Linked DNA regions of Homo sapiens: all the other regions are reported to be linked to region 2. The links are microRNA targets in miRTarBase. Many come from high-throughput screens and were not tested one by one. Region 2 holds a microRNA gene; each other region holds the end of a gene's coding sequence.

Region 1 (3,247 bases), not on the chromosome of region 2:
TTTTATTTTGAATTTGTAATCTCTTTAATCAAATTAATACAAAGCTATACAGATTATTAACATCTTAATAGTTTTTTTTACTATTATTCCAATTTAGGATGAATGCCATATTGAAAAAATAAGTAATTTATGAAGGACTTTTATTGTTTGTACTTCACTAATTGAATAGTTTATGAGTTACCTGGTAAGACAAAATTTACAGTTTCTAATATATTTTATTTATTCATTCAATCATCTGATTTATCCAGAGCTTATGTGGATGCCAGAGTTCAGCCAATCTATGGTGGTACAAATGAAATAATGAAGGAGCTGATTGCAAGAGAGATTGTCTTTGACAAGTAGACATCTGCCCACATCCTGGAGTCCTATTACAGCTAATCTCGTTTTAAATCTGCTCAAGATAAAATGTAACTTGGAAAGCGAGGAAACACTAAACATGTTTTTACCTGCTCTCTCTATAGAGAAGGAAATAAAATATAAATATAAGATTAACACAGTGGAAGGACAAATCTTTGAAGCCAAAATTCTAGTTTTCCAATATAAGGTTTAACTTACAGTTTTTTATGTAGCCAAAGGTAAACGGTTTTCTGAATCTTGCCTAGGTGTTTCATTTATCTCTAAAATTCTAAAAAGCATAAATCATTCAAATCTTCAAACCAAGGCAGAAATAATTTTATGTCGCTATAGTATAAAAACATTAATAAGATAGCACATTGACTTTTAAAGGGAAAAGTAAATATAACTTAGCATGTAAACTCATTTCGGCTACCATTTGCTCCAAATTCCCTAGAACAGTGGTTTTTACCACTGTACTCCAACCCCGTTTTTAAGCAATGGAACTCTTTCTTCAAACAAAAGCTTATGCAGAACATCTCTGTGAAACGCTGCTGAGTGAGAACTGCTTTCATTGAAGCTGGAAGCCATCATACCTTACTGCCTTGAAACCCCTAGGACTCAGCTAAGTATTTGCCTAACCCTGACCAGGGAATGCCTTGGTTCTGTCAATTGCTGACATCTGAGAACACAGAATAATCCATCATTTTTAATTTCAAGATATTGGTACATTTTATAGGTATCAAAGCAATGGCTTTTCTTTTGCAACAGTTAATGTATTTATTAACTTAATAATTACTTTATGTCTTCTATAAACCAGGCTGTTAATACAATGATGACAAACAAAACTGGCAAGATCACTAAAAAATAAGTGAATAAACAAATAAGTAGTAAAATAAGGTAAGAAGTAAATATGTAAAAGAGATAATTTCAAGCATAAGTGCAATGTAAATAATAAAGTAAGCATTTAAAATTCAAAAGTGAGGAAATGACATTTGATTTAAGACTTAAAAGTAATTACAAAAAATAAACCATTAATTTAAAGTAGCTTTAACATGGAAACAGATGTATTCTTACTCAACTTAGAACACAAACATTTTATTTGGTATTGTTGATATTAAACATTGTTTTTTAATACAACCATTACAACTGGAGAGAGGAGAGGGAAGAAAAAATATTTTGATACCAGTCTTTTTAAAATTTTTTTTATTGTACTTTATTTTTTAAGATGGAGTCTCGCTCTGTCATTCAAGGAGTGCAATGGCGTGATCTCTGCTCACAGCAACCTCCGCCTCCCAGGTTCAAGCAATTCTCCTGTCTCAGCCTCCTGAGTAGCTGGGATTACAGGCACGCACCACCACACCTGGCTAATTTTTGTATTTTTAGTAGAGATGGGGTTTCGCCACGTTGGTCAGGCTGGTCTCGAACTCTTGGCCTCGTGTTCTGCCCACCTCGGCCTCCCAAAGTGCTGTGATTACAGGTGTGAGCCACTGCACCCGGCCTTTTTATTATACTTTAAGCTCTGGGATATATGTGCAGAACATGCAGGTTTGTTACATAGGTATACACATGCCATGGTGGTTTGCTGCACCCATCAACCCGTCATCTACATTGGGTATTTTCTCCTAATGCTATCCCTCCCCTACCCCCCTACCCTCCACAGGCCCTGGTGTGTGATGTTCCCTTCCCCGTATCCATGTGTTCTCATTTTTCAACTCTCACTTATGAATGAGAACATGCAGTGTTTGGTTTTCTGTTCCTGTGTTAGTTTGCTGAGAATGATGGTTTCCAGCTTCATCCATATCCCCACAAAGAACATGAACGCATCCTTTTTATGGCTGCATAGTATTCCATGGTGTATATGTGCCACATTTTCTTTATCCAGTCTATCATTAATGGGCATTTGTGTTGGTTCCAAGTCTTTGCTATTGTGAACAGTGCTGCAATAAACATACGTGTGCATGTGTCTTTATAGTAGAGTGATTTATAATCCTTTGGGTATATACCCAGTAATGAGATTGCTGGGTCAAATGGTATTTCTGGTTCTAGATCCTTGAGGAATCGCCACAATGGTTGAACTAATTTACACCCCCACCAACAGTGTAAAAGCGTTCCTATTTCTCAACATCTTCTCCAGCATCTGTTGTTTTCTGACGTTTTAATGATTGGTATTCTAACTGGCGTGAGATGGTATCTTATTGTGGTTTAGATTTGCATTTCTCTAATGACCAGTGATGATGAGCTTTTTTTCATATGTTTGTTGGCCACATAAATGTCTTCTTTTGAGAAGTGTCTGTTCATCTCCCTCACCCACTTTTTGTTGGAGTTGTTTTTTATCTTCTAAATTTGTTTAAATTCCTTGTATACTCTGGATATTAGCCCTTCATCAGATGGATAGATTGCAAAAATATTCTCCCATTCTGTTGGTTGCCTGTTCACGCTGATGATAGTTTCTTTTGATGTGCAGAAGCTCTTTAGCTTAATTAGATCCCATTTGTCAATTTTGGCTTTGTTGCAGTTGCTTTTGGTGTTTTAGTCATGAAGTCTTGGCCCATGCCTATGTCCTGAATGGTATTGCCTAGGTTTTCTTCTAGGGTTTTTATGGTTTTTAGATCTTACATTTACATCTTTAATCCATCTTGAGTTAATTTTTGTATAAGTCATAAGGAAGGGGTGCAGTTTCAATTTTCTGCATATGGCTAGCCAGTTTTCCCAACACTATTAAATAGGGAATCATTTCCCCATTGCTTGTTTTTGTCAGGTTTGTCAAAGATCATATGGTAGTAGATGTGTGGGGTAATTTCTGAGGCCTCTGTTCTGTTCCATTGGTCTATATATCTGTTTTGGTACCAGTATCATGCTGTTTTGGTTACTGTAGCCTTGTAGTATAGTTTGAAGTCAGGTAGCATGATGC
Region 2 (3,000 bases):
AAAATCTCAAGCGCAATATTTTTTCAGTGATACAAAATAATTTCTGTAAATATTTGGAGCATGTACTATATTGCCTTATGTTCAAGTCCAAGAACCATCTGAAAGGTAGAAATAGTTCATCAAGGTAAAATGTATTCTACAGTCATAATACTTTGTAAATAATTTATAGGACAAAAAATATTCAAAGATATCTCAGTTGATATATGGCTACAGAATATTCTTATGCTTCTAAATATTAAGGAAATAGTAAACTGTAACTCAAGAAAGGAAGCTGTACTTATTATATGTGATTGAGTAAAAGTCTAATCAAAATCAAAAATTAATTCAACAAAAGTTGCCATCGAGTACACACCAGCCCAAAGTAACAAACACCCTACCAACAATTGCCTGAAAATATTCTAGAATTAATTTTCACCTCAGTTGAACAATTTATTGACTTTTTTCCCTGCACGCCAGATGCCTATAGTCTCCCCTACAAACATCTTGTCTTTTCCATTTTTGTTCATATTTAGTTTTTGGCAACCACAGCTTGTATAATTACATTATGTTGGAGCAGGACCATATTAAGGAAACATTGCAAAGTACAAAAAATTTTCTTTGGCTCACCTCCCATCTGTAGTGTTTCATGGAGTAATAGCCTTTCTCTGCATCAAAGTCTTTCCTGGATTCCTGTGGTATTGTTCCCAGAATCTCCTCGTCTAAACTCTCCTGAAGCGTTAGCTCCTAAACACATATGTTACTATTTCTATGGGGCTTTTCCTTTACTAGGAATGGAAAACACTGTTGAGATGATCAGATATATACTGCTGATGAGGCAGCCACACTTACCAGCCAGAGGCCAGCTCTGCTTCTGAGGATACATAGAAAGTATATTCCAATAGCGGCCTTTGCATGTGTGCATTATAGCAGCATTCATATTTGAAGAAAGTCAAATTAAAGCATGCATATAAAACTTGTACTATTTGCAGTTTGAAGATTTTGCCCATGAATTTCAAATGTCTGCATGGAATCCCAAGTTATTTTCTCTTTATGGTATAAAAATGTTAAAGAGTGGGGAAGAGGAGGTAATGATCAAAATGCTCATGTGAGGAAACAACTAGGTATTTTATGAGAAAGACAAGCTTCCAAACACAGGTTAAACATGGCACTTTTCATCTCACCTGAAGCATGCTGGCCACTCCAGTCCACCAAATGCAGTTCCCTTGGGACCTACGCTGGATGGATACCCAAGGTCTCATGAGGTAAAGGCTAGGACACTTGCTCTTTCTGACCAGGCAGTGCTGTGGCTGATTAATATCCACCCAAAGCCACAATCACCTTCTGATCTGAGGAGCAGGTGACGGGGAGATTCTGAAGTCTCTTGATAAATTATGCAAACATAATCAAACAATACACATTGCAGGTTAAAAAAAAATTCAGTCACTGAAGTGGTTTGCTTTGTCCTTTAAAGAACTGAATCTAAATAGATTGTCATCAATCATTGGCAGTTCCTAGAATGACAACGCTGAGAAATTAGTATTACATGGGTACCATAGAAGAGCTATTTTCTTTCCTAGTGAAACGCTTGGGAAAGGAGAGAGGAAGGGAGAAAAATAAACAAGGCTTTTCTAACTACTGTTGGAATTTTCCTTTCTCTGTTCTTTCTTCAGATGAACCAGAAGACCAATTTAGTCCCAATATCCAATGCTTTCACATGACTACAGCTTATCCTAAGCCTTCCTTCCTCCTTGCCAATACAAAATACACACCTTTCAAGGATCTTTCAAGGCCTATATCAAAGGTCGAAATTTGCCTACTCCTAAGTCATTCATTTTGTAACGACATCAGTTTCTATGTGATTATATTATATATATATATATATATATATATATATATATATCCTTTTGTATATATATTCTAATTTTATATACTCTGTCTAAAGCTACAATATCTCCTTGCACAGAGTCACAAAATGTAAATTGAAATACATTATTGTTATTAGTTTGATTTTTGTGTTACCTCATCTTCACTATTTAGTAATCATCTTAAATGCAGTAACTTTTGACTTGTAAATGTTGGGCTTTTGACACAGAGTTGGTGTTAACAACATTATATGCAAAATGACTCACTTTACTATTTCATTCGCAATTCACAAAACAAAAAGTTAATTTGTATTCATTGAATAAGATAATACATAGACATATCAAAAATATATAATTTGTAGTTTATTTAGACTCAACATTGTTCCACAACATATCTAAAGCAGAAAGAAAAGATAAAAATATACACATTTATTTTTACAATAAATACTGTCAATAAGTTATCAACTAAATATTAAGGCACTTCTTAGATTAATAAAATTAATAAATTTCACATTGTGTAATATTGTTTTCATAATAGGAAGCCAGTGGTTTTCATTATTTTTCAATAGTCATCGTAGATATGATTATTGCAAATATAAGATATTTTGAATACATACAGTAATATAGTTTGGTGTTAAACAGTAGAGAGAAGAAGGATTTACTGGTCCTTCTGATTTCTTTTTTCACTTTTGTTGGATTATTTCAGGAATACCAGCAGGAATTAGTTTGCTATTATCATTTTATTTTCATAGAGAGGAAAGGAGAGAGTAGGTCAATTGGGATCAGTCTCCCAGGGCATATAAACCCGGCAGAGAGTGGCCCTCTTTAATCTCTGCTACCCTAGACATCAAAGGCTGCACTGCCACTATTCACAGAGATATGTCAGCATGTCCACAGGGGCCTGAACAATCATGCAGAGGTCCATGCTATGGCCTCTCTTGGGAAATCCCGCTCCCGACTTTATCTGGTATGCTCTCCCACCTCCCTCAAGATCTAACTTTGATGCAACTTCCTAGGCATCTCCATTATTTTATTTATTTATTTATTTATTTAGAGACGGAGTCTTGCTCTGTCACCCAACTGGAGTACAGTGGCACAATCTTGGCTCACTGCAACCTCTGCCTCCTGGGCTCAAGCGATTCTCATGCCTTAGTCTCCT
Region 3 (3,247 bases), not on the chromosome of region 2:
AGTATCACATACTATCTGTGGCTTCACACGTGGAAGATGGGAGGCTCTGGAAGGAAGAGGGGATTGCTGACCCCTTGGCCTCTCCCCACTCCTTCTCTCTGTCTCTTCCCTCTCTCCAGGGGGTGACATCCGTTCACCACCTAGGAGGGGAGCTCCTTGGACCATACAGCAGACGTTGTCTGGGTGACAGATATGGAGATGTTCAGCAGAACAGCCGTGCCATGAGCATAGGACTGACATCTTCCCCCTGTGGTGTCTCCTTCTGCAGGTGCCTTATTAAGTGGCTGGAGGTTCGTAAAGTGTGTCCCCTGTGCAACATGCCAGTTCTACAGCTGGCCCAGTTGCACAGTAAGCAGGACCGTGGACCCCCTCAGGGGCCCCTTCCTGGGGCAGAGAACATTGTATAGCTTACCGCAAGGATCAGACTGTTGCTGGACACGACGTCTGTGTGGAGCCAGGAGGAACACATGTGGTGTCTGTATGGCTGCTCTCTACCTAGGACACCAGCTGCCACTTCTTTTGCCTCATGAAGAACTCTTGGGCCAGCCAAACTGGGAACCTAGGTGTCTGGGTCTTGTGACAACCAAAGCACTTTGACACTACCCCCTGCCGAGAGAAGAGGAGTGGATGAGCCTGCGGGTTTGCCTCAAGAAACTTCATGAGGGTCTCTTACTAACTCCATTACACTCTCTCTCCTGGAGCCTCATCTCCATGTCAAGCAGGAGGGTAAAGAAGGGAACTAAGAGCAGGTCTTTCAAGCCACACCCCCACCTGCGGATGGATGGGTTTCTCTGTAGGCCATGCAGGCCTTTGTCGCAGCAAACCTTCCCAGCAGCCCTTGAGCCAAGTAAAACCAGCACAACCAGCCACCAGTGGTTGGTGAGGCAGTGCCCACAAGGCTCATGTTGTATGCCTTTGATAAGGCCATCTTGGCTTTGAGTAGCAGTGTTCCTCGTCACCCATTTCCCCCTCAGGATTACAACACCTGCTATCAAATCATCTAAGCTGAAAACATGAGATGCGCTTGGAAAGGCCTAGTCAGAAGCCATTTCCTCTTATCATTTCCCTCTCCTATGCACCAGTAAGGCCCGTCCAGAGCCCCAGCAGGGAGTGGGCCCTGAGTCCACACTGTCCCTGAGTGATCCAGGAGGCTGCCCACATCCCCACATGTGCACTGTGGTTCCAGTGTAGCTGCTGTGAGCCCACTGCCACTGCCTCAGAAGGGAGCCACTGTGAACCTCTCGAGTGGCTCCAAAGAGCAGTGGCTTTTTGAGAATGGCCCATACTTCTGGCCCGGCTGGATGAAGGGAATGCCGACCCTTTGGCCTCTCCCCCTCCTTCCATCTCTTCTCTCTCTTGCCCTATCTCTCTTTCTACTTCAGAAAAAAAAAAAAAAAAAAAAAAAAGCCTGTCATTCACTTTTTAACACTTTATCCCAAATAAGATCCCTGTGTAATTCTGAAGCTGGTGATCCACTTGGAATTGTAGATAGTTTCAGGAAGCTCCTGCAGGGCTGTCCACCGTTGGTGTGTGCCTCAGTATTTGGACTTCCGAAACTGAAAGTGAAAGTGTCTTTATAGGAGAGAAACGCATGCTGCTCTTTGGCTCTTTCTGTCCAACTTTTCTAGAAATGACTCAAAGTCCATTAAGATTTGTGAATATTGTATAAATTAGCTATGGAAAGTAGCAGGTCAGATGGAAAATTCTTTTCCACAGCCCTGCTCTCCGCCTCCCTCCATCTTAGGAGCGCCTGCCTCAATTCCTCGTCAACTGCTTTGCTCCACTCCATCCCACAGGTGTGAGTGGGGGAAGTTTTTCATTAGGAATACAGTCTGCGTGACATGGAGAATGGATGGAGGGAGCTTTGCTACTCTGCTCTTGGCATGACTCCAGGATTTTTTTCTGGAATCCAACCTCTGTCCTCTTAGGAGAAGGAACCTGTCCTTGGTTCAGATGGCTGGGCATGAGGAGGAAAATTTCCATTAGTGTAGAACAGTGCTGGACAGAATCCGGTTTGGAAAATTACAAATCCAGTTGGTCAAAATAGGCCATTTCCTATGTGTGACCTATTCGTGGTATGCCAACTGGACTGCTTCCTAAACAGGACGAGGAAAGTGAGGAATATTTTTATATGAAAGCCTTAGCCTGTCTGGCACCCATGAAAAAAACTATTTATGCACTCCTACTTTCACCGTCTTTTTGCATTCTCTATTTGTAGCACAACAGAGTTGAATGCCACAAAACACCCCGTTTATAGTGAGCTGTTTTCAGTGACCAATATCAGAAGGAGGCTTGCTTCTGGACTAGCCTCACTAATTGCCAGCAGCCACCATTTTCCATGGAATGGCCTTGGGACAGATGTCACCTCTGTTATGGGGCTCTAATAGGAAAGAGAATGTTTTTTCCCTTCCTATGATCAATACTGCAAATTATTGCTGCTCACAGCTTTTATAGGATTCTCCCAACTGAAAGTTGCAGGCTTTTTCTGTCCCTGTGCATCAGTACTAACAAAAGACAGCCTCACCAAGTCTGTATATTTGAACAGAGGCAAGTTAATTCATCCCCCCGTGTCAGAGCCACAGGCATGTTGAGGGGGTTGATACGTAGCACTGGACCAGGGCGCAAAGCCCAGATAGTTCCAGCCATGAGAGGAGAGCACAAGAATGCTCTGCACTCTGCACTCAGCACCACCTTGGGTCTGCTTTGCCCAGATGAGGGACCACTAACAACCTTCTCAGCACATGTGAATGTGGACTGGTTTTAAAATGCATTCATTCTGCTAGGATTGGGCTGGAAGCTGGAACAGTGAGAGTACTTTTTCTGCTCCTAGTCATCTCCCTTTCTCAGCGTGACATCCTCCTGCAGCAAGCCTAGTATCACTAGCAGTAGTTCCTGCGACTCTTAGCAACACAACCCGAATATTTGCTCCCTGCATCTGGGTCCTCCACCAGGATGGGCCTGCGCATCTGCATTGCTGTACAGACAAACAGGCCTTTTAATTTACATCCTCCTTTAATTCTCATTAAAATCGCAGGGTTTTTGTTTGAAAGACAGTCCTTTTTTTATTTATTTTGAAAAAGGAATGAGTTAGGGACCCCTTTATAACTCTCTTGGCTCAGACTCGAACCCCATGGTAAAGTCACCCTTTCCGCATCTATCTTCAGGAGTTGCTGGGACTTGTTACTGTGTAGCTGCGTGGGGATTCTGGTCTGCTCTTGGACCACTGGCTGGTATCCTTTGTGTGTTT
Region 4 (3,247 bases), not on the chromosome of region 2:
TGTGGGACTTTAGACAAGTTATTTAAATTCTTTAAAACTGTTTCCTCATGTGTAAAAAATGAATACTAATACATCTTCATAGATTTGCTGTGACAACTCAATGAAATAATGCATATAAAGCACTTAGCCAGATACCTGGAATGTAGTAAGTACTCAAGATTTGTTAGCCGTGTTACTGGAACATTTTTCCCCACATTATAATTGTTTTTATAGTAAAGAAATAGAAGGAACTTGTTCTGCTTTTAATCTGATTTTCTCTTTTTTATTTTGTCTTCATCTTATTCAGTGTCTTTTTCCTTGGAGCCATCCTTGTAATAACAGCTACTTTTTTGTATGGTTATGATCCCAAACCTGCAGGAAATCCCACTAAAGCATAGTTGTATACTATCTTTAACTGGTTTTTCACGATGGGGCACTAGGAATCTCGACATTAATCTTGCACAGAGGACTTCTACAGAGTCTGAGAAGATATCATCATGCTGAATCTGATCATACTGTTTTTTAAAAGTTTAAGGATAAGACATGTGTATATGTAACAAAACACATTGCATCTAGAAATCAAAACTTGAAAGTATTTCCAGGGATTAGGATTAGAAGGAATATTAGAGGAAACTTGAAATCTGAGTTTAAAAAGATTTTACCTTTTTGATTGCTGCAGAAATGTCCTATGCACTCTTTGCAAGAGCACACAACAAATGTCAGATACCAATTTTTGCAAATTAGATTTAATCTTATTAAATGTTTTTATCTTACTCTTTCTGTACAGATATATCAAATCACATGAAATATTTAAAGTTTGAAAATTATAATTACCTATAAAGCTGTGAAAAATAGAAGTATAATTTGAAAAAACATTTCACTTATCAGAGATTTTTATATTTATACAAAAGATTACTAAATGAAGGATTGCTAAATGTTTTTGGTTCAATTACATAAAAATTAATATTCTGGGTCTGATCTGTCAGAGAATAAATATCAAATCTAAATTTAATGTAGAGATACATACTATTTCTCCATATGAATTTTAAGATATTTTAGTGCTTCAAGACTGCTGAAAGCAATCCAGTTGCTCCTGTGCTAGATGGTAGCCAGAGAATTTTATAGTAATGGAGGTTAGCCCTTAATCTCTTCATTGCATTTCATTTCTGTAAATCAGATTAAGTCCTTAATATTATTTTAAATTAAAATTTGTGTGTAATTGCCATTAAATTTTCAAAATGTAATTTAAAAGGATTAAATACTCATTTAATAATTTAAAATAATTATTGTATAATATCTACATTTGGAGAATTTTGAACTATCAAGCATATACTGTATACAGTTAGAAAGTTATTAAATGAACATTTTACTCATTGATCTGTAAAAACTTCTTTAATCTACAACTGTTTACAAAAACAACATTCAAACAAATAGTACAGATGTCAGTGACAGAACAAAATGACTTTTCTTGGAGACATTCCAGATTGCCATATTACTTTATTTTAAACAGCGCTATGACTTTAAATCCAAGGCTGCTCGGAAGATTTTTTTAGGTCTCTCATAAGCCTATTCTTCCCTGATCACATGAGTGGGAGAGGTAGCCAAATTTTGAATTCCCTTTCTGTGTTCCCACAAGAGCTGCTGAGAAGGCCTGGCGCAGTGGCTCACGCCTGTAATCCTAGCAGTTTGGGAGGCTGAGGCAGGTGGATCACAAGGTCAAGAGATTGAGACTATCCTGACCAACATGGTGAAACCCCGTCTCTACCAAAAATACAAAAATTAGCTGGGTGTGGTGGCACGCACCTGTAGTCCCAGCTACTCGGGAGACTGAGGCAGGAGAATCACTTGAACCCGGGAGGCAGAGGTTGCAGTAAGTGGAGATCACGCCACTGCACTCCAACCTGGGCGACACAGTGAGAGTCTGTCTCAAAAAAAAGAAAAAAAAAAAAGCTACTGAGAAGGAGCCACCATTTTGCTTTAAAATAGTGGGTTTTTTTCCTTTTTAATGAACACTGGAGCTGAGGATGCAGATTACATGAGTTATTTAATAAGTTGATTCAAGAGAGAGAGAGTATATTAGAAATGGTAAGATGATTTGGTGGGCAAAAATGCTTTCTATAATTTGAATATGGGTTTAATTTAATTATTAACTATAGACAGAATTACTTACTGAGTATAAGAAGTATTTTACTGTCTGGGCACAGTGGCTCATGCCTGTAATCCCAGCACTTTGGGAGGCCGAGGCGGGTGGATCACAAGGTCAGGAATTCGAGACCAGCCTGGCCAGCATGGTGAAATCCCATCTCTACTAATAATACAAAAATTAGCTGGGCATGGTGGTGCGCGCCTGTAGTCCCAGCTACTCAGGAGGCTGAGGCAGGAGAATTTCTTGAACACACCAGGTGGAAGTTGCAGTGAGCCAAGATCGTGCCACTGCACCCCAGCCTGGGTGACAGAGCGAGACTCCGTCTCAAAAAAAAAAAAAAGAAAACACACACACACACACACACACCCACAGTATGAATGAAAAAAATAAAATACTTCTTTTTTTTTTTTTTTGAGACAGAGTCTCACTTTGTCGCCAGGCTGGAGTGCTGTGGCGCGATCTCGGCTTACTGCAACCTCCCACTCCCTGGTTCAAGGGATTCTCCTGCCTCAGCCTCTGAGTAGCTGGGATTGCAGGCGTGAGCCACTGCGCCCGGCCTATACTGTATATATTTTTAAAGACTGTTCTAATAGATATAAAAACTGTAAAAAATAAGTATTTTTATATAGCTCTCATGGATTTTATTAAACAGAATTGGCTCAAAAATACTATGTTACAGACTGTTGGGTACCCTTGCCTAACGTGAACTGGCAGTGTTACCTTGCTTTTGCAGTAATAGTCTACAGATTGCAGGTCTCATCAATTCCATCCAAAGTTTAAAAGCATTTAAAATTACCAAATCTTTAAAATCACTTTGGTGGTGATTCCAAATTGGTACCAAGCAAACTTTCTGGATGCCCAACATGATTTTCAGTAACCACCCTTTAGAGTATTTGTTTACTAAGTTCACCACATTTTGAACATGGTAGTTTTAGACTGCAATAATATTTAGACTTACATTATTACTTACTGCTAAGTAAAATCTAAATCCTGCAAATGCACAGAATTCAAGCTGAAATATAATGATTTATGTTTAGCTCACATTGAAGTATTGGTTGGTTACTTATGTATTAATGCAGTGTGCATTCACATTTAATCAGGTTTAGTCTGTTTCTATTTTAA

The links. The annotated mature microRNA hsa-miR-383-3p reads ACAGCACUGCCUGGUCAGA and lies in region 2 at 1,266-1,284, opposite strand. An mRNA with a match to its seed (bases 2 to 7 or 8) in the 3' UTR can be bound and repressed. Matches are read on the target gene's strand: a 7mer-m8 pairs with bases 2 to 8, a 7mer-A1 pairs with bases 2 to 7 and ends in A, and an 8mer does both.
Region 1: the mRNA of ACADL is a reported target of hsa-miR-383-3p. The part of its 3' UTR that is shown has no 7-base or 8-base seed match.
Region 3: miRTarBase lists RNF24 as a target of hsa-miR-383-3p. Seed matches in the 3' UTR shown: 7mer-m8 at 1,995-2,001.
Region 4: miRTarBase lists SLC35A3 as a target of hsa-miR-383-3p. Seed matches in the 3' UTR shown: 7mer-m8 at 2,570-2,576.

What each region holds. Positions count from the first base shown.
Region 1 is chr2:210,186,056-210,189,302 of GRCh38, reverse strand. ACADL (acyl-CoA dehydrogenase long chain) reads left to right here. Exons shown (of 11, transcript NM_001608.4): 11 at 249-1,380. The coding sequence ends at 342. Among named protein-coding and RNA genes, the nearest start is that of KANSL1L, 16 kb to the right of the region's middle.
Region 2 is chr8:14,852,178-14,855,177 of GRCh38, forward strand. MIR383 (microRNA 383) reads right to left here and starts at 1,333; the gene lies at 1,261-1,333. All of the region lies in intron 1 of SGCZ (sarcoglycan zeta), which reads right to left.
Region 3 is chr20:3,931,223-3,934,469 of GRCh38, reverse strand. It overlaps RNF24 (ring finger protein 24), which reads left to right. Exons shown (of 6, transcript NM_001134337.3): 6 at 269-3,247. The coding sequence ends at 407. Among named protein-coding and RNA genes, the nearest start is that of MIR103B2, 15 kb to the right of the region's middle.
Region 4 is chr1:100,022,100-100,025,346 of GRCh38, forward strand. It overlaps SLC35A3 (solute carrier family 35 member A3), which reads left to right. Exons shown (of 8, transcript NM_012243.3): 8 at 287-3,247. The coding sequence ends at 377. The region is part of intron 1 of LOC124904230 (a long non-coding RNA gene); the gene reads right to left. Among named protein-coding and RNA genes, the nearest start is that of SLC71A1, 14 kb to the right of the region's middle.